Linked DNA regions of Homo sapiens. The protein of the gene in region 1 interacts with the protein of each later gene in a biochemical or structural test. Each region holds a gene or a part of one and is shown on either strand. Other genes may lie near its edges. The genes, in order: SUV39H2 and SASH1.

Region 1 (7,280 bases):
TTTGATCTCTCAGCAGTTGTTAATTACATTATCAGCTTAACGCTTTCAAACACTACGGGAGGCATTTCTCTGTTCACATAGACTTAAGTACACATATACTAAGCTGTAAATAGTCTGCCTTCCATTAGTTTGGTCTCTAAGCACTATAAATATGTCGACTTCATATCAGTCTATGAGACCCAGTGACCCCCTTTTCAGAGGCATCGGTAATACATTTGGCAAATGTCTTGAAACATGAATTGTAAATTAACATAGGTAGAACCTTGATAATAAGAGTCCCAAATATGTATTTTTAAAAATGTTAACATTAGGAAAAAAATATTATAATCATCAGCTCTATTTCCTGAAAAAGTTCAGTTGAGGTAACCTCTGCAAGTCACAGCTCCACATTTACATACTGTTCTGACCCTCTTTTTGGCTGGGCTGTGGTCAATAGAATCTGAAGATATATCTCCAGAACCTGAAGACACAGAAAAAGAAATATAGGAGAAAGAGAGTTAAGACAATTTAGAATAAATTTCAAATTTTCTATTATATTAGCTTTATTATCAGTGATAGAGGGTACTTACATGGTCAAGACCCTTAGAGTAAGTTAACTCCCAAGGAAATGTAGTTAGTTCCCTTTGAAATATTTACAAATAAATGTTAATATTCAGCGTCAAATCATAATGAATTGTCTTGAAAGGATGGTGTGGGTTAATAATAGGTAAACTTTATGTTATTAGCCCATATTTGTCAGAAAGGATTTCTGAAATGATGAAACTTACTGGGAATATCTAATACACATTCATTTCACACCGTATATAAAAGCACAGTATGTAAGAGGTTAAGCAATGACAATATGTAAAGGCCATCATTCTTAAAGGAAAGAAAACATTTATATTGTCACAATAAAGCAAATAGAATTAAATGTTCTTTTTAAAAGCCAGGTTCAAGTAGGAATAGAATAAATTTGTATGTGATTTAAATATTTTCAATCTTTTGAATATACATCTCTCAGTAAAAATTCAAAAATGTAGGCTTATAGTTTTTTTTTTCAGACAGGGTCTCTGTCGTCCAGGCTGGAGTGCAGTGGTGCTATTCACAGCTCAACTGTAGCCCCAACCTCCCTGTCTCAAGCCATCCTCCCACCTCAGCCTCCCGAGTAGCTGGGACTACAGGCACACGCCACCACGCCCGGCTAGTTTTTTCATATTTTGTAGAGACAGAGTTTCACCATGTTGCCCAGGCTGGTCTTGAATTCCTGGGCTCAAGCCCAGAGTGCTGGGATTACAGGCAGGAGCCAGCATGCTTAGCCCACAATTTAAAAAAAAAAAAAAAGACAAGTAGTACAGTATTAAGATGCTATAATAAATAAATCAGTTTCCAAAATGGAAGTTCTGAAAATTTACGATGTAGAACCATTCCTCAGCTGAAGCTCAGGCAGACCTGGGTTCTAGTATTAGCTGTTGGATTAGCTTTGTACCTTAGGATGACAAACTTAGTGCCTCAACTTTTCATCTTTAGTATTAGGTTTGGTTCAAATATCTAAGGTCTGTTCCTAGTCTGATTTGATTCTTCATATTGAAACTGACACCAATGAAACTGTACTTGAAAAGCATACCTTTCATTTGATAATCAAAAGTCAGCTCTTCTCCAGCATTTATGGTTCTTGTGGAAAACAATGCTATTCGGGGAAGACGAGTATCGAGGTTATCAATGAAAACATTGAACACCTGAAGATTTGGGTCACACTAAAAAGGAACATTAGAACCCATTTAAGTACAAACGGTGTAAACAAGCCCTTCTACATGCCATATAAAATGTTTACTTTCCTAGAGATTTAGTTTAAGTTCCACTGGAAATTAAGTTGCTTATTGCTTAGAGGTCTTTGAGGCATGCACATTTAAAAAGATTTTTTTCCCTTATAAAAACTTCAGACAAGTATAAAATAGAGAAAATAAGAAATCCCTATGTATCCACTATACAGCTTCAACAATTAGTAACATGCTTGCCAATCTTATTCCTCTAGTCCCAACTTTTTTTTTTCCTGGAGAATTTCAATACAAATCCCAGATAACATTATTATTTCACTGGTAACTATTTCAGTAAGGCATACACTTTAAAATAACTAGAACAACTGTGTTTAAAAAATCAAATCTGCACTACAGAACTCAAATTTTACACTGCATGGAGTTTCACTGCTTGAATTTTTGGTCCAAACTCTTCAATGTTTTGAGAATACTACAGTAAACTTACGGAATATGCAAGAAAAAAGATGTAGTGAGTCATACTAAGGAATCAAAACTGTTTGATGGCCCTGGATAGAATATCTCTATTTTGAGAGTATCTCGAATTTATCATTAAGAAAAAAATTCTTCAATGTTTAATCAACAAACAAGGGCCCAGAAGCTCTCTGCTAATCATACACCAATTTCTTACTATGAAATCCATCAGAAGTTTAACATGGTCTACTTCCTTTATATGTTCAGCTATATAACTTTGTGGCACACACTGTCCTTATTATCCACAAAATGCAGATAATGTCACCCTAACAAGCCTAATGTTTTACTGTCCACTTGCTACTTAGTAGGTAACCCAAAATTATTAACTTCCCTAATTTTTGGAAATTATTTAGAGTCCAGAATTCTGCAGTTAAGTGCCAGCTGTATTCTAAGAGCTTTCAGACATTAAAAGGTAAGGAAGAATACTAATTTATAATTTAGAAAAATAGCCCTACATAAATACTCTACAAATCTTTAAATTTTATAAAAAGTTAACATGTTTACATTTTAAGAAAATACATTTACCTTCAGTTGTACATCCTAAAATGTAGTCGTGTTAACTTCCATTAAGATACAGTTCTGTGTAATTCTTGGACATTTTACCTCTTAATTGCTCTGCTCATTGTAATATGAAAGTAATACCTACCGTACAAAGTTACTAGAAAGTTTAAATGAAGTAACATATGTAAAGACTCTTGTAAAATACACCCTATTAATATTTGGTAGGCACCTCAATGTTTAATTTTCCTAATACAGCAATAATACCATAACTTAACAGAAGCTGCCCTCCTTATAAAATACATATTTTGGAAATGTTAAAAGGATATGTAGTTTAAAGGGAATTATTCTTTAGCTATGGAAACTAGTACTAGGTTGAATTGTTAGTCGTGTCTAAAATTTACGTATGTCTTCTTACGCTGTGATTCACAAAATGAGACACATTGCCGTATCGAGCCGCATCCACTGTGAATTCATCAGACTCATAGTCCAGATCAAAGAGATACGTGATTCCCTTGTTGTCATAGAACTGTCCTCGTCTTTCAGCTTCTTCACTTGTGATTACCTAAACAGAAAAAACTGTAAGTATATTACGTAGCTACTGAACCAAAGAAGCATTCATCTACCTATCTACTAATATGCGAATACCTACAAATATTTAAAAAGTAAGAAATTCAGGTGTCATCAAAGCAAACATTCACACAAACTAAGACTCAGATGCAAAGAGGTGGGAAAATGAGGGGAAGAAAAATGATAATGCAAAAGACTGATGACCTTTTTTTTTTAAACAGGGTCTCACTCTGTCACTCAGGCTAGAATGCGGTGGTGCCATCATGACTCCCTGTATCCTTTAACTCCTGGGATCAAGCGATCTTCCTGCCTCAGCCTCCTGACTAGCTGGATCACAGGTGCATACCGCCATGCCCAGCTAATGATTTAGTTTTTATAGAGATGTGGGGTCTCACTATGTTGCCCACACTGGTCTGGAACTCCTGGGCTCAAGTGAGCCTCCAGCCTTGACCTCCCCAAGTGCTGGGATTAACTGTAACTGGTTGATTTATGACTTTTTAAACAGGATTTGAGCAGTACATTGGAACACTGCATTACTTTCATTATAATTAGGATGTTCAAAAAGCTATACAACTATAGCTCTCTACAGGACACAACTGAATGTTAAGGACTAAATCTGCAAGTATATGCTCTAAATATGATCCAGGCACATTTTTCCTATAACTTATATATATGCAGTTACAAATGGAAAATTGTTAAAAATACAGGGGAGAAGCTATGTTAACTTTGGAATGGAAGGTTTTGTTTTTGTAGAATATGTTATTTTCATGCAATTCTGTAAGTCTAAGATCGTCATCTACAGTTCTGCTCTTAAGAACACAAGTTTTATGACACGCTCGGCTTAAGAAACCAAAAGTGTCTAAAGTACTTTATGTTACCAACCAAATTTGGCTGCTGCACTCATTAAGAATGCAACTTAAAAAATTTTGGTTAACAAAAAGAGTAATTTGATTATACAAGATCTTGTATACTGAATAATTTATAATAATCTACCACTGTCTAAAAGTGTAAGAATCAAAACAGCCATCTAATTTAGTTTCAGAATTATAGATGAATACAGATAATTATAGGTGACCCAATTCCAACTAAAAAATCCAGAGTTGACAACTCCAGATATGTAGCCATGCTTGTGTCTTTCTAGTCACAGCTCAACCTACCCTTCAGTTTGAAGCAGTGTGGTGCCATGGTGAAGACTACTGATTTTAGAGCTTTGAATCTCGGTTCTTATTACTATGTGACCTGTGTGACCTTGGGCAAGGTACTCAATTTCTCTACAATAATGGACATAACAGTACTACTTCTCAAAAAAAAAAAAAAAAAAAAAAAAAAAAGAAACAGTACTACCTCACTGAGTTTTGGAGAGGATTAGTGAATTAATACATCAAGTGCTTAGAATAGTATGTGACACACGGCAAATACTTTTTACATTTATATATATATATACATATATATGATTTGTATACAAATAAATTTGCTAGTATTTGTATGGTAGTTTTGAGAATGGTCTTCACAGTTCAAAAGTAAGTTACAGATTATGGATGCAATAAATGCTTGTGTATATTTTACAAAACTCATAAATATAGTATCTTTCATGTTGATCCAAAATAGAGTTCTGCCAACTACATTTAATCATATTTGGTCAAATAGATGAAGTAAATTAAAACTTTCAAGTTTCAAAGCAGCATGTGTTACATCTGAGTTTCTTCTTAGGACTTTTGGGTAAAAACAGTTGTCATATTTTAAATTTTACAAATCCTAGGTTTGACTAGTAGGAATGTGTATTTGTTGAAAGATGACTATATCAATTTGTTTTAACGTATATTTTTTATTCATATAAAAGTTTTTTATTTCTAAATATGCCAGTGAACTCTTCTCCTAAATCTGAATAAATTTCTACATATCTGCAAATGAAAATATCAAAATGTACCAAGTATCTCTTAAAGAGATAAAAAGGTAATTTTCCAAAAGTATAAACCTTGCATGTCCATCATTTACTACGTGGCAAATGAAACATACCTCTCCAACATATTCCATGACAAAACTCATTCTTTTAATCTTCACAAGGGTCTTTACACCCCAGCCACGTCCATTGCTAGTTCGAAAGATGCAAAGCGAATACTGTGTGCCTTTTTGTACAATCCTATTGGGACAATCAGGACCACACTGACACCTTGAGTTGCATTCATAGATGGGAGTACCAGGTGGGATTTTAATTTGTTGGTTTTTATTATAAGCCAAAAGAACTCCAGCTTCAGCAGGACAACATTTTTGAAAGAAGCAATCTGTGCATGAACAACCAAAGGTAGCTTCATTGACTAAGCTGATTCCAGGAGCTGGTTTGTATTCGTTAATGTAATAGAAGTCTGAAGGTGGGCCCTCTAAATCAACAGTATTTTCAACAAATATCATTCCTTTATGATTCTTTCTTCTGTTGAGTTCATCTTGCCATCTCTGCAGAGCTATCCTTTGTTTAGCCTTCTTCACAATGTACTCAGCAATGGCAGGTTTCAAAGTTTTGTTATTGTCTTTTGGAGTTATTGCTTTGCCTTTCTTTACCTGAGATAAATAATTATGCTTGTCATTAGAGAATTGCTGAAGCAGTAACGGGCACTTCAGATTTTGCAAAGGTTCCCAAGTATTTGTAGAATCTGGCCATCCTTTCCATTTTACAAGATAATATTCCATATCCTTAAAATACAAAAGAAAATAAAATGCAAATCAGACGGCTATTTCCCAGTTTTACCAAAAATAATTAAAAATCTTAAAGAGTAAGGTATCCAATACCATTTTTCTTACTAACAGTTCAGAACATGTAGTCACAGGTTCCTAACACATGAAGTATAAATCATACAAATAAAACTATTTTTCCTTATATTACATAAAATATGGAATTTAGATGTGGCATAACATGTTTGATAAGAGGCTAAAGAGTTTTACCTGGAAAAAGACAAAGGTACTGAAACTGATGACTATGTTACTAAATGGTGATTCAGGTTAAACCCAGATGTATTTATTTTGATCATGGAAATAAATGGTCCCAAAGCTAACTCTTTATGACCTAGGTTAGTGGCTTACTTGGCCAGCAATAGATTCAGGCATTCTTAACGTCCATAACTTAATATCAAACACCAGACACAAGGGAACTCATTTCTCAACATCATGGGCACACATTCTCTAGATGTTCTAGAGATGAACTATCCAATACGGTTATTACGAGCCACATACAGCTACTGAAAACTTGAAATGTGGCCAATCTGAATTGAGATATGCTTAAAATATAATACACACTGAGGCTGGGCACGGTGGCTCATGCCTGTAATCCCAGCATTTTGGGAGGCCAAGGTGGGTGGATCGCTTGAGCCCAGGAGTTCGAGACCAGCCTGGGCAACATGGGAAAACCCCATCTTTACTAAAAACACAAAAATTAGCTGGGTGTGGTGGTGCACGCCTGTAATGCCAGTACTAGGGAGGGTGAGGCATGAGAATCGCTTGAAACTGGGAGGCAGAGGTTGCAGTGAGCCAAGATTGCACCACTGCACTCCAGCGTGGGCGACAGAGTGCGAGACTCAGTCTCAAACAAACAAAACAAACAAACAAAAAAAAAAGCAAAAAAAAAAAACCCACACTGAATTTTGAAGACTTTGTATCATACAAAAAAAAGAACACTAAGTAACTTAAAACTATTACAGGTTGAAATAATATTTTGGATATATTGGATCAAATACATTCTTGAAAGCAATTTCAGCTGTTTCTTTTTACTTTGTTCAATGTGGTTAGTAGATGTTGAATGGCATCTGCAGCTTGCATTACATTTCTATTGGACAGCTCTCTTCTAGAGAATGCTGATTTTATTTAGACTCACCCATGACTGGATTAGGTAGCAGGCACTCAAGCCACCTAAGAGCAACTATTCTAATCTATCCCTCAGACTGTTGTTGGCCACGATGC
Region 2 (7,348 bases), on another chromosome or scaffold:
CCTCTTCAAGTTCAGTACGGAAAAAGAATCTTGTAAGTCACATTTTACCTAAAACACACAGGATTTCTAAATGTACTGAACTACATTTCTACTGAATTCATCTGAGAGTTAACTATGGAGCGTCATGACATCAGGATCCCTACTGGAGGGGCCAGCGACCAGGGACAAGTCTAACATTGTCACTAACATGGTATGTGCCATTGGCCAAGTCACTTCACCTGTCTAGATTGATAGATGATTGCAAAATCTTATATTTTAAATAAAAAAGGAAGGAAATGGTGTCTCTTGTTTCAGTGAGAATAAAGTCAACTGTTAATTTTGTGTCTTGATGTATTTCCCCGAAGACTCAGTTTGTATAAACACTTGGATGACAGCTTTCCCTCCCTTTTAGCCTGGTGTCTCCCTGCAAGACATCTACAAAGGAGCAGTAAGCCATGTCTTCCTCTGAATTTTACTAAGGAACAATCTCCATGCCTGTTTACCCCAGATAAACAAGAGGAAAACATGAGCAAACACAACCTGTCTGGGACAGGCTTTACGTTCTTCCCAGCCTGATCCTGAATGATTAGCTGAAGTACATATTTTCTTTGCTCCTGCATCTGCCCTTTCAATAGCAGGTTTGAGCTTCTGAAGCCCCACCCCATCTTTTAACTCAGCCAAAGAACACTCCACTACAACTGACCCAACAGTGCTGGAATCTGTCAGGGAAGGGAAAGCAAATCTGCAGAAAATGCCACTGGCCAACCCTCTTCCCCAAAAGAACCCTCAGCCCAAGTTTCATTTAAACAGGCCCCCAATCCTCCCCGCCCCCAGCCCAACGCCCTAGAGTAAGGGATACAATGGGATATTATCAAACCAATTTCCTCAGTGACTGAAAACTTAGAACTGGATCTAGACAAGAAATAACAGGATAACTTAAAAACAGTCTATCGGGCGCGGTGGCTCACGCCTGTAATCCCAGCACTTTGGGAGGCCGAGGTGGGCAGATCACAAGGTCAGGAGTTCGAGACCAGCCTGGCTAACATGGTGAAACCCCGTCTCTACTAAAAATACAAAAATCAGCCGGGTGTGGTGTTGCGCGCCTGTAATCCCAGCTACTCAGGAGGCTGAGGCAGGAAAATTGCTTGAACTCAGGAGGCGGAGGTTGCAGTGAGCTGAGCTCGTGCCACTGCACCCCAGCCTGGGCGACGGAGCAAGACTTCGTCTCAAAAAAAAAAAAAAAAAAGAAAAGAAAAAGTTTATCACAACTTTAAAATGTCCATTAGGTTTTCTGGAACTTCAGTGAAGGATCATATTCATCTGTATACTTCAGAAAATGCAAAAACAAAACCTTTTAAATCTAAAATATATATTAGATTTAGGTATATTATATACATGTGCTATATATAGTATGTAAATATACATTGCATGCATATTTATATACATTTTTCAATACTGGAGAGTGACAAGAGCAGATAGAAATCTTTAACCAACGCTCGCTGGTTCTCTGTATAGTAAGAATCATAAATACCAATGGTCACCTGAAAATGGAGTAACTGGGCTTTTAGGATGTCCAGAAGGAAGAGACAGGAGACTTTGCAGGAAACAAATAAAACCTGAAAGACAGCTACACTTATTGAGCCTCTACTATATGCTATACAGTCTGCTGAGTACTTGATACACACATCAACCCAGCTAAATCTCAGAAACCCCAAGAAGCAAGTCTTCTTTTCTTCAATTTTCAGGTGATGAAACTGAGGATCAGAGAGGTTGAATGACTTGGCCAAGATCATGTAAACAGTCAATTGGAGAGCTGGCATTTGACCTAGTATAACTTACTTTGAAGCCCAAGAGTTTAATCACTGTGCTAAAAACTGTACACGGTTTATCATTCCCAAAGAAGAACTTTCACTCCATCTCCTCCCACTCAAAAAATATAAGATCTCAAAGCAAATCTAGAGACTTTTCTGATAATCTGCACATCTGGCCATTCCAAGTCTTTAAACTAAAGTTGTCTTTTATGTATGGATTAAGATGTCTGACTGTAATAAACCTCGCCCATCTGATTCCAGTCTACCTGCCTAACTACAGCTCCACCAAAGCAAATCTATTACTTCCCCAAGGTATTCAACCCTGAGCAGGTTAAAACTTCACCCTCCATACAGAAGAACTGCTTCCCAGAGACTATGCCAAATCCAGGGGCGCTTTTAGTCACTGGACATTTCAAAATACATGACAGCACAGATTTAGCAAAATAAGTCCTATTGTTTTAGCCCCAAACATATAAAACAAATATCCTGTAACTCCACAAATTGAAAAACTGCAAAAAAAAGTAGGCAAACATTTTGGCAGTTCTGAGTAAGGAAATGTTTGTTTTCCCTCTTGTGGTCACACAACAAATGGTGAAGAGATAAACATCAGTAACATCAGCCTTTTCCCTAATCCAGCACCAACCAAATATTTATTTACATCTACTTTTTGAAGGCCTCTTTCTCGCCTTTTCCACACCAACATGTCAGCAGGTGTCCCAGATTAAACTGTTGAATATCATACCCGATTGTTTAAAAAACACCTTTTGACGGGACCTGTGGCTGGTTATTTTTTAATTAGGGTTTGAAATCCTATACTGTGTGTATTTAGCCCCCTAAGAACTAGAGCCAGAGAAGGACGCCTCTGCGGAGTGGGTTGCCCAGTGGGTGGGCGAGAAGGGAGCCCCCGGTTTCAGAGGGGCTGCTGCGAACTGTACTTCCTGCGCCGCCCCCTCCCCAGGTAACTTACCAGGATACCCATCACGTCGGTCCAGAGTCGGGAGAACGCCTCGGATGTGCCAGCACCCGGCTTGGGCTCCGGTTCCGGCTCCGGCGCGGGCTCGGGCTCCGGCTCGGGCTCGGGCTCAGGCTCCGGCCCCGGGCCAGCTGCTCCCGCGTCCTCCATGGCCGTGTCCCGCGCGCGGGCCGTGCGTCCCAGTCCCCGCGGCGCCCTCGCCCCGCACCCGCGCGCAGCCTGCCCGGATGCCGGGTCCCCGCCCGCGGCGTCACCGAGCCGCGCCCCCGCGCTGCATGCCCCGGCGGCCCCGGCCACCCCGCGGGGGCCCTTCGCAGGCGCCCGCACCTCGGGTCTAGGTGGCCACGGGCTGCGCGACTGACAACTCCAGAAACTTTCCCACCCCGCTCGGCGCAGCAACAGGGTAGCAGGAGGCAAAGTCCGCACCACTGAGTTGTACGGCGGGGAATTCGCTCGGCCCAGAAGCAATTAAACCCACTGCAAAGGCGTTTCTTCCTGTGACGGGAACCAACTAACTAAGGCACGCGACTCGTTCCTTCTAGCAAGTCTTGGCAGGACCCGGCAGGGGTGGCCGCGGAGCCTCTAGATCTTGGAGGGAGCTCCCCGGGACCCCTCTCTTCAAAATGAGCTCTTCCAGCTCCACATGACTCTCTCCCTCGAGGCTAAAGAAAGCGTTTAGCAACAAAAGGTGCTCTGATGTCAGGCTCTTTGCATGGAAATGAGCCTCGGACAGGAGAACAAATCGCCTGTTGAAAGAGCAGCCGCGCCGCGGTCTCCGGCCCGCACAAGTTTCCAATCACGCTATTCACGGAAACGCTTTTGGTAACGGAAACCCGAGAAAGTTAATCTTTAAGCGACTCCCGCCCAAAGGCTTCACAAGTAGTCCGTGTCGCTACAATGCATACCTCGCCCCTCGTGAAGTCAAGCGACCCAAGGAATTACAAATCCTGCCTCTGCCAGCCAAGACTTCTCTGCAAAACAAGTGTGAAAGCTTGGGCACGAGCCATTGTTTGGATCATTTTTTATGAGTGGGGGCATTTTGGCTCCTGAATGCCCACAATGCCATGCATTGCTAGGGCTTTCGGCTAATTAAGGGAAATGCGCTTTGGGTTTTAATTATTCCTTTACATTAGGGACACAGGGAAGGGCTATTTTCGAAACTAAATTCAAATGATTGTGTAGCCAGTCAGCCTACACACACTTGGGGCCCTGTGTGTGTTTTTCCAAGGGGAAGCCCCAGGACAGATTTATTTTATAAGGGAACTAGCCCTGGAGAGGTGATTTTTCCCTTTTGTGATTCTATCTTTCAAGACTACTCAGAGTTTTCCTTGGAAGGTGACAATGCACGTCACATTCGATTTGGTGATTGATCACTTTTGAAACAGTTAAGAAACCACATGGAGTTTGCTCCTCTGTTAGGGCCTTGTGGTTTAAAAGGAAAAAAAAAAGTGAGATGCCCCAGGGAGAGAGCCCTGCTTGTTTTGAGGCCTCTCCTGTTTCTTGTTGATTGTGGGGTTTTTTTTGTTTGTTTGTTTGTTTTGTTTTGTTTTGTTTTGTTTTCCTTCTGAGTCCACTTGAAAGGGGATAAGAGCATGTCCTTGAATTCCCCTTGTTCAAGTATTAAGTGCTGTGAGCACCAATCAATGCAATGGGTGAATAGTCCTTACAGGAAAGTTCAAAATGTAAAAACATTTTCAAAAGTAACTAAATTTATAAACACAATCCCTGATAATTTTTGTGTGTTTTTGGCGGGTGCGGGGCTGGCGCCTGTAATCCCAGCACTTTGGGAGGCTGAGGCGGGCGAATCACTTGAGGCCAGGATTTTGAGAACAGCCTGGTCAACACAGCAAAACCCTGTCTCTACTAAAAATACAAAAAAAAAAAAAACAAAAAAAAAAAACAAAACATAGCAAGAGTGTTGGAACATGCCTGTAATCCCAGCTACTCAGGAGGCTGAGGCAGGAGAATAGCTTGAACCCAGGAGGCGAAGGTTACAGTGAGGTCCTGCTGCTGCACTCCAGCCTGGGTGACAGAGGAAGACTCTCTGTCTCCAAAGAAAAAAAAAGTATGCTGAAAAATTTTTTTAGAGACAAGGTCCTGCTCTCTCACCCCGGCAGTGCAGTGCTGCAATCGTAGCTCACTGCGGCCTTGAACTCCTGGGCTCAAGCAATCCTCCTGCCTCAACCACCTGAGTAGCAGGGACTACAGGCACACCGCTGCACCAGACTAATTTTTTAAATTTTTTATAGAGACATGATCTCTTGCTGTTGCCCAAGGTGGTCTCAAACTCCTGGACTCAAGGGATCCTCCCTCCTTGGTCTCCTCAAGTGCTGGGATTATAGGCATGAGCCACTGCGCACAGTCTCTGACGATAATGTTTGTGAAAGGAAACCAAAAGAATTATTAAATTTCTCCTTAATAGCATTGAGGCATTGTGTTGAAGTAGAAAGAGCACTGAACTATGAGTCAGTACAGCCAGGTCTTGTGCTTTCCTAGGCTGATGCCGGAGTTAGGCCAGATGGGTTTTCAAGGCTCCCTCGTGCTCTGTGATACTTTGAATAAAAATAAATTCAGTTAAGGCTGATGAGGTTTTTTTAATTGTCATTTCTATAAATAGATAAATATAAGTAAATGATAGGAAAAGATAAATAGCCTTTACAGTTGACTGTATTGGTATATTTAAGAATTTGAATTTATTCACCACGTGATACTTTTTTTTTTTTTTTTGAGACAGAGTCTTGCTCTGTCACCCTGTCGCCCAGGCTGGAGTGCAGTGGCACCATCTTGGTTCACTGCAACCTCTGCCTCCCAGGTTCAAGCGATTCTCCTGCATCAGCCTCCTGAGTAGCTGGGATTACAGGCATGCACCACCACGCCTGGCTAATTTTTGTATTTTTAGTAGAGACGGGGTTTCACCATATTGGTCAGGCTGGTCTCGAACTCCTGACCTCATGATCCACCCGCCTCAGCCTCCCAAAGTGCTGGGATTACAGGCATGAGCCACCGTGCCTGGCCTGGTACTTTCTTAAATTTAAGAAGATGCAGAGGACTGTGCTGCTTCCAAGGGGCAGCCTGTTCTCTACATAAACACTTTCCAGCAAATAACTCAGCAAGGAGCCAGGCAAGCCGGGCAGTTGGGGCTGGGGTTAGGATGAAGCCTGACTCTCCAGCACCAATCCAGAATCATTTTCTTCTTGACTCATCAGATGACCTGGGGCAAAGCATTTGACCTGGTGCTAGTTTCCCCATCCAAGATGAGGCAAGGCCATACTAATGGCCACCTGCTTCTTCACAGGTTATAGTATGTTTCAGGGTCATCTAAAGACACGTACAGTTTAGTGACAACACATACCCGCATCAGTGTAATTAAACGGGCCGGGCATGGTGGCTCATGCCTGTAATCTCAGCACTTTGGGAGACTGAGGCAGGCACATCACTTGAGGCCAGGAGTTCGAGACCAGCCTGGCCAACATGACAAAACCCCATCTCTACTAAAAATATAAAACTTAGCCAGGCATGGTGGCACACACCTGTAGTCCCAGCTACTTGGGAGGCTGAGACAGGAGAATCGCTTAAACCTGGGAAGTGGAGGTTGCAGTGAGCCACTGCACTCAGCCTGGACGACAGAGCGAGACTCCATCTCAAAAAATACATCTATATAGATATTTATATAGATATCTATATTTATAATTATATATCTATATATATACACACACATATAATTAAACCTTAGCCAGCATTTTGGCACTTATAGAAATCAACCTATTCTAGATATTTAAGCTGTTTTTCCTGGTGCTTCTTAATCAATGGATAGGGAAATGAGATAATGTTTTGGGAGAAATGTTGATGCCTATACATAGAATGTGAAATTTGAGGCCAGGCATGGTTACTCATTCCTGTAATCCCAGCACTTTGGGAGGCCGAGGCAGAAGGATCATCTGAGGTCAGCAGTTTGAGACCATCCTGGCCAACATGGTGAAACCTCGTCTCTACTAGAAATACAAAAATTAGCTGGGCATGGCAGCATGTGGCCTGTAGTCCCAGCTACTTTCTACTTATCAATTTCCATGTGTTAACTCAACATGATCTGATTACCACTCCCAAGATTGACGACTCTTTTCTCTCTTAGTTAATGTCACTTGTCACTCCTTTCTTCTAAAATTTCCTTCAGGGGCTTTTTATCTCTCTCTCTCTTTTTTTTTTTTTTTTTTTTAAAGACAGAGTCTCGCTCATTGCCCAGGCTGGAGTGCAGTGGCCCGATTTCGGCTCACTGCAATCTCCCCCTCCTGGGTTCAAGCAATTCTCCTGCCTCATCCTCCCAAGTAGCTGGGACTACAGGAGCCTGCCACCACGCCCGGCTAATTTTTGGATTTTTAGTAGAAATGGGGTTTCACCATGTTGGCCAGGCTGGCCTCAAACTCCTGACCTCAGGTGATCCACCTGCCTCGGCCTCCCAAAGTGCTGGGATTACAGAGATGAGCCAAGGCTCCTGGCCCTTCAGGGGCTTTTTAACAAAGTTGTCCTTTCCTTATAAAGAAATCACCATCATCATCATCATCACAACTTCAGAGTCATATAGGATATC

The links.
Region 2: the proteins of SUV39H2 (region 1) and SASH1 are reported together in a solved structure, tested with the Homo sapiens proteins (one study listed by BioGRID).

Annotation. Positions count from the first base shown.
Region 1 is NC_000010.11:14,895,586-14,902,865, reverse strand, and holds part of SUV39H2 (histone-lysine N-methyltransferase SUV39H2), read right to left. Parts: intron 6,021-7,280; coding exon 5,349-6,020; exon of another isoform or gene 3,617-5,348; coding exon of another isoform or gene 3,554-3,616; intron 3,328-3,553; coding exon 3,181-3,327; intron 1,734-3,180; coding exon 1,604-1,733; intron 461-1,603; coding exon 354-460; 3' UTR 1-353. UniProt on the Homo sapiens protein: Histone methyltransferase that specifically trimethylates 'Lys-9' of histone H3 using monomethylated H3 'Lys-9' as substrate.
Region 2 is NC_000006.12:148,338,633-148,345,980, reverse strand, and holds the start of SASH1 (SAM and SH3 domain-containing protein 1), read right to left. Parts: upstream 3,144-7,348; 5' UTR 2,914-3,143; coding exon 2,758-2,913; intron 1-2,757. UniProt on the Homo sapiens protein: Is a positive regulator of NF-kappa-B signaling downstream of TLR4 activation. It acts as a scaffold molecule to assemble a molecular complex that includes TRAF6, MAP3K7, CHUK and IKBKB, thereby facilitating NF-kappa-B signaling activation.